Homo sapiens: one gene and its partner. The protein of the gene in region 2 binds, or shares a complex with, the protein of the main gene of each other region. Each region holds a gene or a part of one and is shown on either strand. Other genes may lie near its edges. A codon is read from its position in the direction of its gene.

Evidence for each region. The genes of interacting proteins can lie anywhere in the genome.
Region 1: the proteins of PEAK3 (region 2) and YWHAE are in contact, whole or in part, in a cryo-EM structure (PDB 8DP5), measured with the Homo sapiens proteins. Residues at the interface, in NP_940934.1 of Homo sapiens: Gln144, Arg147, Arg154, Ser223, Leu224, Ser225, Pro226, His227, Lys293, Phe294, Ala297, Trp298, Pro339, Pro342, Thr460; in NP_006752.1 of Homo sapiens: Asn113 (codon at 296), Thr114 (codon at 299), Gly115 (codon at 302), Lys118 (codon at 311), Tyr122 (codon at 323), Asn147 (codon at 1,001), Ala154 (codon at 1,022), Asp157 (codon at 1,031), Ile158 (codon at 1,034), Met160 (codon at 1,040), Thr161 (codon at 1,043), Glu162 (codon at 1,046), Arg193, Lys196, Ala197, Asp200, Asp201.

Annotation. Positions count from the first base shown.
Region 1 is NC_000017.11:1,355,190-1,362,231, reverse strand, and holds part of YWHAE (14-3-3 protein epsilon), read left to right. Parts: intron 1-223; coding exon 224-330; intron 331-933; coding exon 934-1,140; intron 1,141-7,042. UniProt on the Homo sapiens protein: Adapter protein implicated in the regulation of a large spectrum of both general and specialized signaling pathways. Binds to a large number of partners, usually by recognition of a phosphoserine or phosphothreonine motif.
Region 2 is NC_000019.10:2,279,142-2,286,741, reverse strand, and holds the start of PEAK3 (protein PEAK3), read left to right. Parts: upstream 1-4,566; 5' UTR 4,567-4,655; intron 4,656-5,806; 5' UTR 5,807-5,810; coding exon 5,811-5,892; intron 5,893-7,600.

The DNA.
Region 1 (7,042 bases), on a different chromosome or scaffold from region 2:
GTGTGTGTAACAATAGGCAGCATGCAGAAGGGAAAAGATACTTTTTATAACCTAGAGGCAGCTTTTCTCTGCTTTTGTGTCAAGAAGGAAGAAGGGAGTTTGGAGAGGGATACAAATTCTTTTTAATACTAAGCTCTCTACCTCAAAACCAGAGATAGAATATGTAATAATTTGTAGAATTTCTAGACTTAATCTGATTTAAAAAAAATTTTTTTTTTTTTAGGTTGAGACTGAGCTAAAGTTAATCTGTTGTGACATTCTGGATGTACTGGACAAACACCTCATTCCAGCAGCTAACACTGGCGAGTCCAAGGTTTTCTATTATAAAATGTAGGTTCTATACTAGAAGGGAAAATGTAAGATTGAAAGTTGGTCCTTTTAGAACCATAACTTTGTTCTATGTAGGTTTTCAACTTTTATTTAAGAATAATTGTTCAATGTTAGAAGGATAGTTAATATTGTAATGAAAAGGTGGTTGGGCTATTATGAAAATGTATTAGCTTTTGCTTATTTATATTCTTTTGTTTTTGTGAGACCTATCCCATTCCCCTCCCCCAAACGGCATACATTTCACAGTGCTTAGTGTTATATATAGACATTTTATTTTATGATTAATAAACTGTCATGCCATTCCTTGGAACCACTTGCTTGTTTAATTCTGGTCTATCAGGTGATAATTTTATTAATTTTTAGAGGCTCCTCAGTTAATTTCCTGGGATTTTTGCTTATATTTAGTAATATGAAATGTCTAAGGAAAAAAATGAAACGAAGCCAGTTATTCCTGAGAGTGTTTAAAATTATTGAAGTACACCTAATTGTTACATATATTTTTGTCACATTTTATATAATATAGAACAATTTTAGCTTATTTTCCTTTAAAAATCGTTCCTAGTTTAAATTTTTTTTTTTTTTTTAATTTTGGTTTTGTTTTAGGAAAGGGGACTACCACAGGTATCTGGCAGAATTTGCCACAGGAAACGACAGGAAGGAGGCTGCGGAGAACAGCCTAGTGGCTTATAAAGCTGCTAGTGATATTGCAATGACAGAACTTCCACCAACGCATCCTATTCGCTTAGGTCTTGCTCTCAATTTTTCCGTATTCTACTACGAAATTCTTAATTCCCCTGACCGTGCCTGCAGGTAAGTTGTGGGGAAGAACAGCAGCGCTCAGCGTGAAAGTTAAGGGGGGCGCTGTTTGGGTTTTCCGTGTTGTTTCTTGGGCCTGTCTTTGTAGACTTGGCTGCATAGTAATTCTTTTGGCTCTTACTGAAACTACTTTGGATAGTATTAAAACAGACCTGTCTCAACCCACTAGCATAGCAGTCAGCATAATTATTTTGATGTGGGATATTTTTGTTGCTGGTAGATTGAAATCTAACATGTTAAAATGAGTAGAGGAAGGAAATGAGAGGAATTAGAATTATTTTAATTTTTGTTATATTAGTTTTCAGTCTTTTTTTAAATTTGAGACCATGTCTCACTCTGTCTCCCAGGCTAGAGTGCAGTGGCGCCATCTCAGATCACTGCAGCCTTCACCTCCTGGGTTCAAGTGATTCTCCTGTCTCAGCCTCCTGAGTAACTGGAGTTACAGGGGCCTGCCACCATGCCCAACTAATTTTTTTTGTATTTTTAGTAGAGACGGTGTTTTCACCATTTTGGCTAGGCTGGTCTGGAACTCCTGACCTCAAGTGATCCGCCCGCCTTCGCCTCCCAAAGTGCTGAGATTACAAGCATGAGTCACCACACCCAGCCAGTGTTCTGTTTCTATGGGCATGTTTTTAATAGTTACTCTCGTAGCAAACATAATTTTATATTTTCTGTTTTAGCATAAACAAGTTTCAGTCTTACTAATGTGTGTTAAACTGTTCCCCCATTTATACTTCAGCTTGTTCCCAGTTTTTGATAATGTAGATAAATATGTAAGGAATATTTATACGTACATAACTTTTTACTTTTAAAAAGTTGTGATAGCCTGGGTGCAGTGGCTCACGCCTGTAATCCCAGCACTTTGGGAGGCTGAGGTGGGTGGGTCACCTGAGATCAGGAGTTCGATACCAACCTGACCAACATGGTGAAACTCTGTCTCTATTAAAAATACAAAATTAGCCGGGTGTGGTGGTGCATGCCTGCAATCCCAGTTACTCGGGAGGCTGAGACAGGAGAATTGTTTGAACCCAGGAGGCAGAGGTTGCGGTGAGCCTCGATTGCACCAGTACACTGTAGCCTGGGTGACACAGTGAGACTTTTTTTCAAATCTCTCTCTCTCTCTCTCCCCCTCTCTCCCCCCCTCCCCCTCCTCCCCCCCTCCCCCTCCCCGTCTCCCTCTCTCTCCCCGTCTCCCTCTCCCTCTCGCCTGGGCGACAAAGCGAGACTTTTACACACACACACACACACACACACACACACACACACACACACAACAATTTAGTGGCACCGAATACATTGACAGTGTTGTGTAATCACCACTATTTGAAAACTTTCTCTTCACCCCACACAAAGCGAATTATAGCCATTAAACAATCAATAACTTCATTTCCCCTCTCCCTAGCTGCTAGTAACTTTTATTTTACGTTGTCACTATGAATTTGGCCCATTCTAGATACCTCATGTAAGTGGGATCATATAATATTTGTCCTTTTGTGGCTGTCTTTATTTCATCTAGCGTAATGTTTTTATCCATGTAAAAGCATGGATCAGAGCTTCAGTCCTTTTAGTGACTGAATTTACACAATTCATTTTATGTATTTTGCACACATTGTTTAGTCATTAAACTTTTGGTGGTCAGTGGGTTTCCACCTTTTCCCTATGGTGAGTACAATGCTGCTATGAAAATGGGTGCACTAAGTATTTGCTTGAGTCCTTGTATTTAACTTCACCTTGAGGTGGAATTGGGACTGAAAATTCTGTGGGTAACTTTTTTTTCCGGACAGGATCTTGTTCTGTCTCTGCAGTTGTGCACTCATAGCTCACTGCAGCCTTGGCTTCCTGGGCTCAGCCGATTCGCCTACCTGAGCCTTCCAAGTAGCTGTCACTAGAGGTGGATGCCACCATACCTGGCCTTTTCTTTTCCTTTTTTTTTTCTTTTTTCTTTTTTTTGAGGGAGAGCCTGGCACTGTCACCCAGGCTGGAGTGCAGTGGCGTGATCTTGGCCCACTGCAACCTCTGCCTTCCAGGTTCAAGCGATTCTCCTGCCTCAGCATCCAAAGTAGCTGGGATTATAGGCGCCTGCCACCATGCCTGGCTAATTTTTTGTATTTTTAGTAGGGATGGGGTTTCACAGTGTTGGCCAGGCTAGTCTCGAACTCCTGACCTCGTGTGATCTGCCCGCCTCGGCCTCCCAAAGTTCTGGGATTACAGGTGTGAGCCACTGTGCTTGGCCAGCCCTTTTTTTTTTTTTTTTTTAAGATGGAGTCTCGCTCTGCTGGCCAGGCTGGAGTACAGTGGTGCGATCGCAGCTCACTGCAACCTCCACCTCCCAGATTCAAGCGATTCTGGTGCTTCAGCCTCTCAAGTAGCTGGGATTACAGGCATGTGCCACCATGCTTGGCTAATTTTTGGGGGCATTTTTAGTAGAGACGAGGTTTCACTATCTTGGTTAGGCTGGTCTCAAACTCCTGACCTCAGCCTCCCTCCCAAAGTGCTGGGATTACAGGCATGAGCCACTGCGCCCGGCCAATTTTTAAATTTTTTTTGGGCTGCGTGCAGTGGCTCACGCCTGTAATCCCAGCACTTTGGGAGGCCGAGGAGGGCAGATCACGAGGTCAGGAGATCGAGACCATCGTGGCTAACGTGGTGAAACCCCGTCTCTACTAAAAATACAAAAAATCAGCCGGGCGTGGTGGCGGGCGCCTGTAGTCCCAGCTACTCGGGAGGCTGAGGCAGGAGAATGGCGTGAACCTGGGAGGCGGAACTTGCAGTGAGCCAAGATCACGCCACTGCACTCCAGCCTGGGCGACAGAGCGAGACTCCGTCTCAAAAAAAAAATTTTTTTTTGTTGTTTTGTTTTGTAGAGGCAGGGTCTGGCTGTGTTGCCGAAGCTGGTCTTGAAATCCTGGCCTCAAGTAATCCTCTTGCCTTAGCCTCCCAAAATGCTGAGAATACAGGCCTGAGCCACTGCACCAGGCCCTTTTGCCCATTTTTGAATTCATGTTTTTTTCGTTTGTTAAGTGTTGAGAGTTCATTATTCCAGATAGTAACCTCTTAGCAAGTAAATGGTTTGTGAGTATTTTCTCCTCTTCTGTAGGTTGGCATTTTGTTGTTGTTGTTGTTTTTTGCTATTGTCTTTTTCTTTTTTTTTTTCCCCCGAGAGGAGAGTCTCGCTGTGTTTCCCAGGCTGGAGTGCAGTGGTGCAATCTCAGCTCACTGCAACCTCTGCCTCCCGGTTTCAAGCGATTCTCCTGCTTCAGCCTCCCAGGTAGCTGGGATTACAGACGCCCGCCACCATACCCAGCTAATTTTTGTATTTTTATGTAGAGATGGGTTTTCACAGTGTTGGCCAGGCTGGTCTTGGACACCTCACCTTAAGTGATCCAGCCACCTCGGCCTCCCAAAGTGCCGAGATTACAGGCGTGAGCCACTGCACCCAGCCTATTTTAAATTTTTACAGTAAATATTGCAGTAGCAAAATGGTTTTTTTGCTTTTTTTTTTTATTTTGACGGAGTCTCACTCTGCTGCTGTGGCTGGAGTACAGTGGCGTGATCTCAGCTCACTGAAAGCTCAGCCTCCTGGGTTCAGGCGATTCTCTCGCCTCAGCCTCCCAAGTAGCTGGTACTACAGGCACCCGCCACCACGCCCGGTTAATTTTTTGTATTTTTTTTTTTTTTTTTTTGAGACGGAGTCTCGCTATGTCCCCCAGGCTGGAGTGCAGTAGCGCGATCTCGGCTCACTGCAAGCTCTGCCTCCCGGGTTCACGCCATTCTCCTGCCTCAGCCTCCCGAGTAGCTGGGACTACAGGCGCCCGCCACCACGCCCGGCTAATTTTTGGTATTTTTAGTAGAGATGGGGTTTCACCGTGTTAGCCAGGATGGTCTCGATCTCCTGACCTCGTGATCCACCCGCCTCGGCCTCCCAAAGTGCTGGGATTACAGGTGTGAGCCACCGCGCCCGGCCTATTTTTTGTATTTTTAATAGAGATGGGGTTTCCCTGTGTTAGCCAGGATGGTCTCGATCTCCTGACCTCGTGATCTGCCCTCCTCGGCCTCCCAAAGTGCTGGGATTACAGGCGTGAGCCACCGCGCCCGGCCCCTTTTGGTTTTTGTATGTGTTTTTTTTTGGTTTGTTTGAGGACAACTGCTTAAGCAAAGTAGGGTTTTTAAGTGAAAGCCTTTCAAAGTTTGAGGAAAGGGGATTAACTGATACATTGGAACTTTAATGTTGACTATTATAGGCATGCTTCACTGCGCTTGACTGAATTTTTTTTTTTTTTTGCATTTTTAGTAGAGACAGGTTTTCACCATCTTGGTCAGGCTGGTCTCGAACTCCTGACCTCAGGTGATCCACCTGCCTCAGCCTCCCAGAGTGCTGGGATTACAGGCGTGAGCCACTGCGCCCAGCCAATGTAAAAACATTCTAAATGGCTAGTTGAGTTTGTCCAGATAGGGATCGTAACTGAAGAAGCTGTGGCTATTTAGCTAATACTGGTGGTTGCACCTTTCCTTGTCAGACTCCAGTCTAGCTGTCCCACGTGTAGCTCCAGTTTAAAGTCACTCGCATGCCTTTGCTCATGCTTCTGCTTAAACCTGAAGTGTGTTTTGTTTTCTCCTTATCCATTGAGATTAGTTCAAATTTGACTTTCCCTTTAATTGCTCCTCCTTCTGGGTCCCTGAAATACTTTATTTGGAATAGCACTTCATTCTTCTTCTTCTTTTGTTTTTGTGCTCTCTTGCCCAGGCTGGAGTGCATTGGCACAGTTTCACCTCACTGCAACCTCCGCCTCCCAGGTTCAAGGGATTCTTCTGCCTCAGCCTCCTGAGTAGCTGGGATTACAGGCATACGCCACCATGCCCGGCTAATTTTGTGTGTGTGTGTGTGTGTGTGTGTGTGTGTGTGTGTGTGTGTGTTTTTAGACGGAGTCTTGCTCTGTTGCCCAGGCTGGACTGCAGTGGCGTGATCTCGGCTCACTGCAGGCTCCGCCTCCTGGGTTCACACCATTCTCCTGCCTCATCCTCCCAAGTAGCTGGGACTACAGGCACCTGCCACTGCTCCCGGCTAATTTTTTTGTATTTTTAGTAGAGACGGGGTTTCACTGTGTTAGCCAGGATGGTCTCGATCTCCTAACCACGTGATCCGCCCGCTTCTGCCTCCCAAAGTGCTGGGATTACAGGCTTGAGCCACTGCACCCGGCCTAATTTTTTGTGTTTTTAATAGGTTTTGCCATGGTGGCCCGGCTGGTCTTGAACTCCTGGCCTCAAGTGATCTGCGCGCACGCATCAGCCACCCAAAGTGTGCTGATTACAGGCATGAGCCACCACAGCCAGCCTCCTCCTTGTAAAATAGTTATGTATTTGTCTACCCTCCATTTCTAAATTTTTAAGTTGATGTGGACTTAGATTATGTCTCTTTTTTTTCTATTGGTATATCGTATCGTTTGTTGGACATAGTACACAGTACTCAGTAAGTGTGGATTTTCTTTTAAAACTGTAAATGGCTTACATAATCACATTTCCATGGCGTCTGTGTTGCCTTTTATTTTCTTTGCTTCCCTGCCTCCATTAACGTGAAATTAAATTTTTTTAAACTTTGAGGTATTGTCCAAGATTTTCTTTTTGCATTAATACTTTGTTAAATATCTCAACCTTGTAATCCAGCACTTTGGGAGGCTGAGGCGGGCACATCACGAGGTCAGAAGATCAAGACCATCCTGGCTAACACGGTGAAACCCTGCCTCTGCTAAAAATATAAAAACAAATCAGCCGGGTGTGGTGGCGGGCGCCTGTAGTCCCGGCTACTCGGGAGGCTGAGGCAGGATAATGGTGTGAACCCAGGAGGCGGAGCTTGCATTTAGCCTACATCCCGCCACTGCACTCCAGCCTGGGTGATAGA
Region 2 (7,600 bases):
TCGGGGAGTCTGGGTGCTGCTGACAGGGTCCCATGTCTGCCCTGCCTGTCTCTGAGGGCTCCGAGAAAAGCCAGGGAGTCTTGGCTTTGGAAGTGAGACTAATAAAGTGCTTTAGCCCCACCCCAGTCCTCACTGACAGATGGGGAAATTGAGGCACAGAGCGGCAACAGATGGAGAAACCGAGGCACGGAGCGGTGACAGGTGGGGAAACTGAGGCACAGTGGGCATGAAGTCTCAAACCCCACCCGCCCGGGAAGGCACAGGGAGAAGCTTGTGCTTTTTCAGGATGGAAGTGGACGGAACTAGGATGCAGAAGACCCGGCCAAGAGCAGTCTCCCACTCGCCACAGCCCAGTGTCACTCTCTGGGCCTCGGTTCCCCCATTTGAACCTGGGACTAAGGTTCCTTTATTTCCCTGCCCTTCGGGGGCAGAACAGAGGCCTGTCAGGGACTGTGAGGCGGCCCTCTCTCCATGCCTGGTTTCAAGGCAGCTGGAGGGTGAGGGGGGCTCTAAGCTGTGGGACTCTCCCGTGGGGACTGATTTCCCGTTCTCTCCTACAGCAAAGGCAGGTGAAACTATTGTCCTGTAGGCCTCAGAGTCCCCGTCCAGGAGAGCCGCCTCTTCCCTGTGCAATGCTCTGAGTGCCTGACATGAACCAGGTGCAACCTCCAAGGTTTCCATGAACCCTGACTCATTTATGGGGTGCACTCGGGGGAGGGCAGGGGAGACCCCAGCTGAGAGGCCCTCCCTGCTCAGGCAGCCAAGACCCAGCTAAAGTAACACCCATCTCCTTGGTGGCTGGAAACCTAAGAGGGGACCCCTAAAACCAGGACCAGACCAAGCCATCCTCACGCCCCATGTCTGGGTGGCTTCTGACCAAGCCTGACTTGACTTCCCCTCCCAGACGGAGCTAGGACAGCACTCGGGGTGCCCCAGCCCATGCCGGCACCCTCGTGGATCTCTCACCCCCATCTTCTGGACAGGGACACGCGTTTGGGGTGTCTCTCTCTCTCCCACATCCCCCGACAAGCCGGCATCTTTTCCAGGTGATTCCTGAGCCCTGCGTATGAACTTCCTCCTGTTTTCCTCCACAAGACAGAGGCACAATTCCCACATGTGAGCTTTTGCTTGTGGAGCCAAGGGAAGCTGGAGGCTCAGGTCTCCGGCTTCCATTGCTGTGTGGCCTGGGGCAAGTCACTGCCCCTCTCTGTGCCTCGGTTTGTTTGTCTGTAATTTGGAAGCTAATAGTCCTGCAATAGGCTGGGCATGGTGGCTCACGTCTGTAATCCCAGCACTTTGGGAGGCCGAGGCGGGTGGATCACCTGTGGTCAGGAGTTCGAGACCAGCCTCGCCAACATGGCGAAACCCCATCTTTTCGAAAATACAAAAATTTGCTGGGCGTGGTGGCGGCCACCTGTAATCCCAGCTACTCAGGGGGCTGAGGCAGGAGAATCGCTTGAACCGGGGAGGGGAAGGTTACAGTGAGCCGAGATCGCACCACTGAACTCCAGCCTGGCTACAGAGTGAGACCCTGTCTCAAACAAACAAAACACAGGCATTTTTCTCCAAAAGGCCGATGTCATGTAAAAATCCATCAGCATACGGCATCCCTGCCCTGCCCCGTACTGGGTGATGCTGGGGATCCAGAGAAAATGTGGCCCCAGCTCCCATGGCTCAATAAGGGCTTCTCAAATGAAAGGACAGCTGTAGGATCTGGAGGGGCCTGATCCAGAGGCCACACCACGCTACCAACATTTTTTTTTTTTTTGAAGACAGAGTTTCACCCAGGCTGGAGTGCACGATCTCAGCTCACTGCAACCTCTGCCTCCCGGGTTCAAGCGATTCTCCTGCCTCAGCCTCCCGAGTAACTGGGATTACAGGTGCAGGCTACCATGCCTGGCTAATTTTGTGTTTTTAGTAGAGACGGGGTTTCACCATCTTGGCTAGGATGGTCTCGATCTCCCGACCTCAGGTGATCTGCCTGCCTCAGCCTCCCAAAGTGCTGGGATTACAGGCATGAGCCACTACGCCCAGCCTTTTTTTTTTTTTTTTTAAACGGAGTCTTGCTCTGTCACCCAGGCTGGAGTGCAGTGGTGCAATCTCATCTCACTGCAACCTCCGCCTCCCGGGTTCAAGCGATTCTCCTGCCTCAGCCTCCAGAGTAGCTGGGATCACAGGCACCCACCTCCATGCCCGAATAATTTTTTTTTTTTTTTTGTATTTTTAGTAGAGATGGGGTTTCAGCATGTTGGCCAGGCTGGTCTCAAACTCCTGACCTCAGGTGATCCACCAGCCTCAGCCTCCCAAAGGGCTGGGATTACAGGCATGAGCCACCACACCTGGCCTATCAATATTTTAAATAAAGACAGGATCTGATCTGCACTTGTTTAACCCTGCTTCTCTTTGCCTTACCCTGCTCCTCCACCCGGGTTCCAATAAAACTTTATTGACAAAAACAGAGGCTCGGCCCATAGTTTGCCGGTTAGGTTTTGTGAAACATTCAGTAAAATGATGTTTATCTTGATTACTGAGGTGCATGTTTGTCTGTTTTTGCATTGTTTTATTATTTATTATTGATTTATTTTTGTGATAGGGTCTCACTCTGTTGCCCAGGCTGGAGTTCAGTGTTATGATCATAGCTCCCTGCAGCCTCGACCTCCTGGACTCAAGCAATGCCCCCACCTCAGCCTTCTGAGTAGCTGGGACCACAGGCACACGCCACTGTGCCAGGCTCATGTTTTATTTTTTGTAGAGATGGGGTCTCACTGTGTTGCCCAGGATGGTACCAAACTCCTGGGCTCAAGTGATCCACCCACCTCAGCCTCTCAAAGTGCTGGGATTACAGGCATGTGCCCAGCCTTTGCATCATTTTAAACTCTGTGGCGGGCGCAGTGGCTCACGCCTGTAATCCCAGCATTTTGGGAGGCTGAGGCGGGCAGGTCACCTGAGGTCAGGAGTTCGAGACCAGGCTGGCCAACACGGTGAAACCCCAACTCTACTAAAAATAATAATAATAATACAAAAATTAGCCAGGTGTGGTGGTGCACGCCTGTAGTACCAGCTACTTGGGAGCCTGAGGCAGGAGAATTGCTTGAACCCGGGAGGCGGAGGTTGCAGTCAGCCAAGATTGCGCCACTGCACTGCAGCCTGGACAACAGAGTGAGACTCCATCTCAAAAATAAATAAATAAAATAAAAATTAACCAGGCATGGTGGTGCACACCAGTGGTCCCAGCTACTCAGGAGGCTGAGGTGGGAGAATCACTTGAGCCCAGGAGGCGGAGGCTGCAGTGAGCTATGATCACACCACGGCACTCCAGCCTAGGGGACGGAGCTAGACCCTGCCTCAAAGAAAAAAAAGTGTGGCATGGGACCCACTCAAGGGAAGTTCATAAGAAAAATGTAGTCTCCTTCCCCTCCTGCCCCTTCTCAGGGGATTGGGGGAGGCCAGGGGGACTCAGCAGTGGCTCTGTGGACCTCTGCTCCCAGCCTCGAGCTGCTGCGTGACCCTGGATGGAGCCCCTACTCTTTCTGGGCCCATTTTCCCTAAGGGAAACGGGATCGGGGATCCCACATAAAATACACTCAATCCTTGCAGCAAAAACATCTTTGGGGCCGGGCAGGGTGGCTCACACCTGTGATCCTAGCACTTTGGGAGGCCGAGGAGGGAGGATCGCCCCAGGAGCTCGTTCCAGGCTGCAGTGAGCTGGGATTGCACCACTGCGCTCCAGCCTGGGCAACAGTGTGAGACCCTGTCTCCAAAGAAAAAGACAGTTTTGACAGGCACGCAGTTCAGCTGGAATTTCACCCCGCGTCTGCTTTTCCTTGGGTTTTTTCCATTCTTGATTTTTCCATTTATGGTGATTTTATCTAAAACGTCTTTTCTAAATAAATGCATCGAGGCAGTGAGGAAGGGGGAAGGGGGAAAACGAGCCGATTCCATCTTTTCAAAGAAAAATCCAGCAGGCGTGGCTGTTAGCAGGCGGGATGTGGGAGCCACTCTTCTTTCTTCGCCGGAGCACGGAGAGGGTGGGGATTTGCCCGCAGTCACACAGCGAGGCGCGGCAGAGCCGGGAGGGTCCTCGCCCACGCTCCACATTCGGGGGCCCTGGGATGGGGCAGGGGGCCGCTGGGGGCTCCTCAGATGCTGCCGCAGGAGGGGAGGTGGTTCCCGGGGAAGTGAAACCCACAGACCCCACTTGCACCTTCTCCAGGGACAGCCGCCACCGTGTTCTGTGCGCTCCCCTACGGTGGGCCAGCTCTGCCCCTCTCTCCCCATCTCACAGGGCTCCCCACTGCCCCGCACCCCAGCCTGGCCTCTGAGGCTGTGGGGGGCCTTCCACTGCCCCCACCCGGCTGTCAGCCCTGGGGCTATTGACTTTCAGATCCCACCTCCTGGTCTCTGTCCAGGCTGTTCCCTCCCGGTTACATCCTGTCCTCTGCGGGCGGGCAGGGGAGGCGGCGGCCTCGGCTGCTGGGGAAGTGTTGCAGAAATGTCCCCTCCCCACCCCGGGCTGCGGTCTGACAGTGGGCCGGACGTTTTCCTGTCAGCTGCCGGCGCCAGGTCAGACCCCTCCTGCGAGGCCAGGGGCTGTGGCCATTGGGAGTTTGTCCCCACGGACCCCTCCTCCCCCAGAGGGCACGCCAGTCTTGAAGGTAGGGGGCTCCTGGAGCGGGGAGCTGGACAGAAGCGGCCACTTTTTGAGGTTGGGATCTGGGCGGGGGTGGGTCGAGGCCTGGCTGCCGGCAGCAACCGCACGGCTGAGCCCTCGGGGATGAGGCCTGAGTGTGGATCCCTGGGTCCCTGGACACTGTCTCCCCCGCAACTGACCCCCAAAGGCCTGTCCTCAGGCTGAACACTCTGTCCCCATCCCAAACGTGCAGAGGGGGGTCCTTCCCACTGCCTGGAAAATTGATGGGTGACAGACCTGCCTCATGATTGAGGAAGTGGGCCCAGAGAGGGCAGGAAACCCACTCGGGATCACACAGCAGGGCCCCAGAGAGGGCAGGAAACCCACTCAGAATCACACAGCAGGGGCCCAGAGAGAGTAGGAAACCCACTCGGGATCACACAGCAGGGCCCCAGAGAGGGCAGGAAACCCACTCGGGATCACACAGCAGGGCCCCAGAGAGGGCAGGAAACCCACTCGGGATCACACATCAGGGGCCCAGAGAGGGCAGCAAACCCACTCAGGATCACACAGCAGGGCCCCAGAGAGGGCAGCAAACCCACTCAGAATCACACAGCAGGGGCCCAGAGAGAGTAGGAAACCCACTCGGGATCACACAGCAGGGCCCCAGAGAGGGCAGGAAACCCACTCAGAATCACACAGCAGGGGCCCAGAGAGAGTAGGAAACCCACTCGGGATCACACAGCAGGGCCCCAGAGAGGGCAGGAAACCCACTCGGGATCACACATCAGGGGCCCAGAGAGGGCAGCAAACCCACTCAGGATCACACAGCAGGGCCCCAGAGAGGGCAGCAAACCCACTCAGAATCACACAGCAGGGGCCCAGAGAGAGTAGGAAACCCACTCGGGATCACACAGCAGGGGCCCAGAGAGGACAGGAAACCCACTCGGGATCACACAGCAGGGGCCCAGAGAGGACAGGAAACCCACTCGGGATCACACAGCAGGGTCAAAACTGGACAAGGGAGTGGAGTGTGGGTGCGCCTGTTCTCACCAAGGGCCCTGGAGCAGGAGGCCTCGACGGTCTCCCAGGCCCCAGCACTCACGGACCCCTCCCCATGTCGCCCTGTGCGTGCACACGGTCACCCCACACACGCCCCGTTTGACCTTTCCCCAGCAACATGAGCAGCCCGGAGCCCCCCACAGAGCCCCCCGAGCCCGACAACCCCACCTGGTCGACTCAGCCCACGTATAGCAACCTTGGTAAGCAGCTCCCCAGGGAGCCCTGGGCTGCGGGGGTGCAGGGAGCGGCAGGGGGGTGCAGGGAGCGGCAGGTGGGTGCAGGGAGCGGCAGGAGGTTGCCGGGCACCATGGCCTCTGGGAACAGCAGCAGCTGGTAAAATGAGTGACCTCCGGGAAGGCCCGGAGTAGGCCAGGGCTGAAAAATAACCTGTGGGTTGGTGGGCGGGGCGTGGTGGCTCACGCCTGTAATCCCAGCACCTTGGGAGGCTGAGGCAGGTGGATCCCTTGAGGCCAGGAGTTCAAGACCGGCCTGGGCAATATAATGAGACCCGCCCCCCATCTCTACAAAACAAAAAAAATGAGATGGACATGGTGTCAAGAGCCTGCAGTCCCAGCTGCTCGGGAAGCTGAGGTGGGAGGATCCCTTGAGCCCAGGAGGTCAAGGCTGCAGTGAGCCATGAAATAGAAAAAAATATATACCATTAAAAAGAGAGAGAGGCTGGGCACGGTAACTCATGCCTGTAATCCCACCCTTTAATCCCAGCACTTTGGGAGGCCAAGGAGGAGGATCACTTGAGGCCAGGAGTTCAAGACCAGCCTGGCCAACATGGCAAAACCTGTCTCTGCTAAAAATACAAAAATTAGCCAGACATGGTGGTGCATGCCTGTAATTCCAGCTACTCGGGAGGCTGAGGCAGGAGAATCGCTTGAACCTGTGAGGCAGAGGGTGCAGTGAGCCAAGACTGAGCCACCGCACTCCAGCCTGGGCGACAGAGGGAGACTCCATCTCAAAAAAAAAAAAAAAAAAAAAAAAAAAGGCCAGGTGCAATGGTTCAAGCCTGTAATCCCAGCACTTTGGGAGGCCGAGTCAGGCAGATCACCTGAGGTCAGGAGTTTGAAACCAGCCTGGCTAACATGGTGAAACCCCATCTCTACTAAAAATACAAAAATTAGCTGGGCATAGTGGCGGGCGGGCACCTGTAGTCCCAGCTACTTGGGAGGCTGAGGTAGGAGAATCGCTTGAACCTAGGAGGCGGAGGTTGCAGTGAGCCGAGATCGTGCCACTGCACTCCAGGCTGGGCGACAGAGCAAGACTTCAAAAAAGAAAAAAAGCAAGACAGACGCTTGTGCAAAGCCACGGAGGTAAGTGGGAGTCGCTGAGTGCTGGGTGGCATCACTCTCTGAAACTGATCCATCCTCCTATAAGCCTCAGTTTCCCCTTCTGTAAGCTCTGCCGCCCAGGCTGGAGTGCAGTGGCACAATCTCGGTTCACTGCAAGCTCCACTTCTCAAGTTCACACAATTTTCCTGCCTCAGCCTCCCGAGTAGCTGGGACCACAGGCGCCCACCACCAAGCCCGGCTAATTTTTTGTATTTTTAGTAAAGACGGGGTTTCACCGTGTTAGCCAGGATGGTCTCGATCTCCTGACCTCGTGATCCACCCATCTCGGCCTCCCAAAGTGCTGGAATTACAGGCATGAGCCATTGTGCATGGCCGCGTCCGGCAAATTTTTAAAAAATTTTTGCAGAGACAGGGTCTCACTATGTTGCCCAGGCTGGTCTCAAACCCTAGGTTCCAGTGATCCTCCTGCCTCGGCTTCCACCTTCCTAAGTGCTGGGATTACAAGCATGAGCCACCGGCGCCCAGCCTCATTACTTCCATGTTAGAGATGGGGAAACCGAGGCTGAGAGGTGGAGTCACGTGTCCCGTTCCCACTCCGCCTGTCCTC